2 separate regions of the Homo sapiens genome follow, and region 1 is linked to region 2. Evidence: fine-mapped expression QTL. A gene starts in region 2. The other region holds a variant in brackets. All regions are shown on one strand. Distances are between the middles of the regions. Region 1 has its middle 7.9 kb from the start of LBH. Region 2 holds the start of YPEL5 (yippee like 5).

Region 1 (2,901 bases), 77 kb before region 2:
GCACCCACTGTGTGCCAGACAGGTGCTGGCATTTCCAAAGAATCGGTTTAGGAGACGTTTAGTTTTCTCCTGTCTCCATAACTCCCTGTAACCATCCCAGATAACCACAGTCTGTGTGATGGTATTATGCCTGCAAGGTCACTGCACCTGTAAGACAAATTCCCTAAACTGCATTAATGATCCCCTCAAAGAATCACAAAACTAAGGCCGCGCACGGTGGCTCACGCCTGTAATCCCAGCACTTTGGGAGGCAGAGGTGGGCGGATCACCTGAGGTCAGGAGTTCGAGATCAGCCTGGCCAACATGGTGAAACCCCATCTCTACTAAAAATACAAAACTTAGCCAGGCGTGGTGTTGGGTGCCTGTAATCCCAGCTACTCTGGGAGGCTGAGGCAGGGAGAATCGCTTCAACCCGGGAGGCAGAGGTTGCAGTGAGCTGAGATCGCACCATTGCACTCCAGCCTGGGCAACGGAGCAAAACTGTCTCAAAAAAAAAAACAAAAACAAAAACAAACAAACACAAAACTAAGTAGAACGGTCACACATGCTAGCAAGTGCATTTTGCAGGTAAGTCTCCTAGCCTCTGCCCTTCCTATGCAAATTGCTACCCCTGAGTTTCTTTTTTAAAGAAGTGAGAGTCTACCTCTGGTGTTGGCAAGGTGTTGGGCACTGGGGTGTCTGGGAACCTAGTTGCCACTCCCTCTAATATCATACAATAACTGCTGCAGTAGACTCATGTGAGCATGGGTGGGGATATGATTAGTTCAGTCCCAGGCAAAGGCACTGGGAGAGGGGGGCTGACTGGCAGAAGGGAAGCTCTCAAGGGCAAGGAGTAGGTCTGTTTTGTGTCTTACTGTGTCACCACCACCAGAAGAGTGCCTGGAATCTAGCAGGCACTCAGGGAATATCTGTGGAAAGAATGGTAGCAGGAATAGCTAAAGGGAAGGGATGGCAACTGAGCTGGCCTCAAAGGATGGGGAGAAGCTAGAGAAGGGCGATCCTGCCAGCAGAACAACATCAGCAAAGGTGTAGGGGTCAGAAAGGGCCAGGTGTGTCCCAGGAACTAGGGGTGGGCAGCAGCATTATCTATTCCAGACCTTGGGAGAGGCACTCCCATGACTCCAAGTCTACATGCTGAAGGGAATAACTATTTGTGAGTAAAAGGCCTCATGCTCTGCGGAAGGGACTGTGCACACAATTTCTAGCAGAAAGAAAAGTCTGTTACTTCCATTAGCCAAATCAGTCCAGGTTCCTTCACCTCTATGTTATTCGAGTTAATATCAGCGTTTCTCTTCCAGCCAGGTGGGGCCTCAGCAGAAGTGTTAAGTAGGTCAAATTTCATGTATGTGAAATTTGTCTTTTGAGACTTCCCCTTTCTAACCCCTCTTGTTTCACACTTC[C/T]CTTCAATGCGCCCCAGGCACCCACTGAACTCAGGAAGCCCCACACTCCCTTCATAACAGCCTCCCAAGCTCCAAAACCACTCTTTGCTTTTCCACTGAAACTTCCATCCTGCAGCTCTCTAAGCCAAGGCAGCTGCCAGGCAAGAGAACTTGATCTGACAAATGAATTCACACTATTGTGAGAATGACATGCAGGCAGCACCTCAAAGGCCTCAGTTTCATGGTGGCACTGCAGACAGGGTAAGTGGGTGACAGGAAAGTCTCTGGTCCTGGAGGCAAATTGATGGTTGATGGTTGAAGCCCAGGGGGAAACCATGTCATGATGAGAGAGAGAGGGGGAACCACCTGGAAGGGCTGGGGTGGGTGCATCCAGTGGGCACAGTATGAGGTGACTTTCCTTGTCCATCACAGTCCTTCTGGAGGGATCTGATTGGAATTCTTGTCCCTAGATCTAATATGATCATAGCACTTGAGCTGTTTAACTCAGAAGAGGGGAAAAAAGATCTGGGCATACCATTTCTTTCCTTCCTCCCTTCCTTCCTTCTTTCCTTCCTCCCTCCCTTCCTTCCTTCCTTCCTTCCTTCCTTCCTTCCTTCCTTCCTTCCTTCCTTCCAAGGGACAGAGCTTTAGACTAAGGGGACCCGGGCACTCAGCATCCCTGCCCAGGGGTGTAAGTCCTGTGTGAGTCTGAGCAAAAGCCAGGACAAGTAATGACAGCAGAAAGACATTTCCACACGCTTGGTGAGGCCTCGGGGTAGCTTACATGCAGGGTTTCAGAGCCCAGTGAGCAGCCAGTGTGGCACGTTTTGGCCTCAGGCAGAGCCAGTGGCCCTACTGCCCCCAGCTACTGAAGATGGCGGGGCAACTGGCCACCACACCTCCCACCCTCACCAAGGGCCCTGGGTGGGTGAATTCAGAGGCACAGCCAGGTAGGAACCTTGGCTTGCACTCTCCTGAGTGAGTGCCTGGCTTTCTTGTGCATTCTCATCCAGGCCTCCTCTTAGAAAGGAGCACCAGAAAGACAGAAGGTGATGCATCTGAAGCTGTTTTCTGATCTTCTTCTTTAATGTCCATGATATTATTACTGCAAAAAGCTAGAATGTTCTGTGTGTTTGAGTCTTCCCAGGGGTAGGGGGGACCTTCCCCACTCCTAGCCACCTGATTATTTTATCTGGGATGGTTGCAGGTTGTACCAATAAAAGTGCTGACCCACTTGGCTTCCACTTCCACCCTAGAGAGGGCCCCTTCATACACCCTCACCAGCATTAGTCTCATTTTACTGCCTTCATCTCCAGGACCCTAAGCCTCCACAATGCTTAGTAATTTCTCTATTTAAAAAGAAGAAAGTAAATGGATTACACACCAGATATGATGCTGCAGGCATTCTTAATAAGAGAACCACCAATTCCTTTCACTTATTGGGGCTCAGTTTGTTTCTCTGTAAAATGGGCCTGATATTTCCTGCCCTCCGCTTATGGCGCAGTAAGTATTGTGCAACTGT
Region 2 (2,901 bases):
TGGAATGCAGCTGCGACGCTCTATATGTGGCTATGCAAAGTTAGCTAATATCCTACTCCTCCCAGTTTCTTCACCACCAAGTCTACTAATTTTCCAAAAACACAAGGTTAGCCCGAAGTTACTTCAGGTTTTCCATCTGTCAAGACGACGTAGAATAAAAATCCTCAGATTACCAACAGATCTCTGTAAACAGAAAAAGTTTAAAAATAAATGAGCTGTACAGCTTCCCAGACTCTCCCTTGAAAGGGAGATTAGTTGGTATCAGGATTAAACAGATCTTTGTAGTATTTCAATTTCCCACTCCCGCTGATCCGGACACTCATTTGTCCCATCTACCTGCAGAGAAGGTACAGGAAAGGGGTTGCAAGGGCACGCCCACCCTCCCGACTGCAAGCGGAGGGAAGGCCGCAGCCCGAAGCTGGCGGAGCTGGGCCGGCCCGGGCGACCCCCGGGTGGGCTCACCCGGCAGCCGCAGTGGGGCCCGCGAGCGCCCCCGCCGGCCCAGCTGATGGAGGCCACGTGACGCCAGCCGGCCAATCGGGAGGGACCGGGGCGGCAGAGCGCGGCGGCGGCGGTGGCGGCGGGGCCTCCCTCGGCACAACAAACACGAGCAGGAAACAGCTGAGCGGGTGGCCGGGGGGCTCTCTTGGTCCCGACACCCGGCGGGCTGCCCAACCGTCACCCTGCGCTGTCAGTCCCGGGTCCTCTGGGCAGGAGGGCGGGGGAGGCGGACGTTCATGGGGGGGAGGGGGCAAAGGGAGACACCGCCCCAGCCCGGTGGCTGGGCCGCTTGGGCCGGGCGTGGGCCCTGCTCAGGACGGTTCACGCCGTGCGGTCATCGCGGCCCAAACAACTCGGTCAAGTTCCGACTTGGATTCGGGGCGGAGACCGGGCGCGCCCCCGACTATGCGACGGGTGGGGGCGGGGCAGCCGCGGCGCGGCGCGGCGGGTTGGGGGTCGCGGCCAGACCGTCCGCCCAGGGGGCGCCGTGGGCCTCGGCGGCGGGCCTCGGAGGACGCGACGGGGAAACGGGGCGGAGGCGCGGGCGCCGCGCGGAGGGGTTGCGGCTGTTGTCGCACCGGTCGCCCGGCTGCGCGGCGGGGGCGGGCCGACGGCGGCCGCCGCGCCAGGCCTCACAAAGAGCAAACAGCCCCGCGCGTCCGCCCGCGGTCCCAGCGCCGGGGCCCACCCTGAAGGATCTGGGGCGGCCGCTCTGGGACCCCGGGAAGAGCGCGGCGAGGAAGAGGCACTTCCTGCCTGGGCCCCCCACCCTGGGCCGATTCCCGAGTGCCTCGAAGCCGCCCGACCCGAACGGGCGCCTCAGTCCCCACCGGCCCCGAGTCCAGCCCCTCCCGCGGGACTCACCCTGAGCGGCGGTGAGATCCGCGGCTGCCAGCGGCTTGTCGCTCTTCAGCTGGTATGAAGCCCCTCGGCCACCCGAGTCTCCAGGTTTAGTCAGGCCCTGGCCTTGGCCCCGCCTCTCCCTGGTTGGGCCTCAACGTCAGTCACCCGGCGTGGCTCCGCCCCCCCGCAGTCAGCTCTCCCGGTTGGCCCAGAACGCCCTTTATTTCTAGGCCCCGCCCCTGTCCTCGGCCTCCTGCCTTTTTCGCGGGGCCCCGCCCCTTCTCTGGCTCACCCTCCCCCACTCCCGCACCCCTCCGCTTCGCGGCCCACCCCTCTCAGAAGCCGCAGACCCAGGGCAGGCTTGCGACAGCTCGCCCCGCCCCTGACCCAGCACCTCGGACTCGTACAGCCAATCAAAGAGGCTAACTCTGCCCCTTCTCTCGAGGCGGCCAATGTAGTCAGTCTGGGGACCCACCTCCCCCTTTCAGCTGAGCGCACACAACACAGCATCCACGTGAGTCAGCTTCTTAAAGGCGAAGGCTTGGCCTGTCTAATTGCGGCAGCTGCGAGACATCGCACGTCATTAGCGTCACCAGGTAGCGGCTGGAGCCGAGCTTCCTGATACCTAGTGAGCCGCGGTGATGACAAATGAAAACAATAAGCTGTTTCCTAGACAAACAGCTGCCTAGGTAACTAAAGTGCACCGTGTAATTCGTTTCTTGGAGGCCGTTTCCCCGACCACCCCTGGTAGAGGGCTGCCTTTTGCTTTCAAACCCCTAGCCCTCGAGTCTAAGCGCATAGGCACTCCTAAGAAACATCTGTGGATACAGGATTTTTCAACTGCGCTTGACTTTATTTACAACTCATTTGAATGTTTTTTCTGGGTAGTGGAAATGATTCTCAAAAAGATGAAGAAATTCAGTCTTCTATATGGCGAATTTCTGCCTCAGAGAGTGAGATTTGTTCATTGCAAAGAGCAGCTGTTCCCTTAACCCTTATCAATGCTTAAGATGGAAGATGTTGCTTCTCATTCCATTAGAGTTGCCCAGGTACTTACATCTCTGTTAGCTGACTTTCGGGATAAAACCAAAATATTTGATGACGCATACCTCTCAGATTAAAAATGTAGGTTAGCATTTGGGGCTAGTTTGCAACATGTTTAAAGTCATTATTGGTGGAAGAGAAGCTGCTAAGCAAATTCTAGCACTTGACTCCCGCTCATCCCCAAATCCACAAGTATTTTCATTTAGTTCGTCTGAAGTTTACCTGAGCATCAAAGGCAAAAGGACTAGTTATCTTTTAATAAGTGAGTTTTCCAGGAGATAAGTTTTTTTGTTTGTTTGTTTCAGACGGAGTCTTGCTCTGTCGCCCAGGCTCGAGTGCAGTGGCATGATCTTGGCTCACTGCAACCTCCGCCTCCCGGGTTCAAGCAATTCTCCTGCCTCTGCCTCCTGAGTAGCTGGAATTACAGGCGCACACCACCACGCCCGGCTAATTTTTGTATTTTTAGTAGAGACGGGGTTTCACCATATTGGCCAGGTTGGTCTCGAACTCCTG

What was found. PIP is the estimated chance that this variant, and not a neighbour inherited with it, causes the effect.
Region 1: its variant is the best candidate, but not a certain one, in a credible set for the expression of YPEL5 in whole blood (TOPMed, PIP 0.61).

The regions. Positions count from the first base shown.
Region 1 is chr2:30,222,202-30,225,102 of GRCh38, reverse strand. No RefSeq gene overlaps it. Among named protein-coding and RNA genes, the nearest start is that of LBH, 7.9 kb to the left of the region's middle. RefSeq lists an enhancer at 679-748 and a silencer at 1,269-1,328. The variant C/T (reference allele first, on the strand shown) is at 1,401.
Region 2 is chr2:30,145,527-30,148,427 of GRCh38, reverse strand. It overlaps YPEL5 (yippee like 5), which reads right to left and starts at 1,421. Exons shown (of 3, transcript NM_016061.3): 1 at 1,366-1,421. RefSeq lists silencers at 308-747, 1,038-1,207, 1,238-1,817.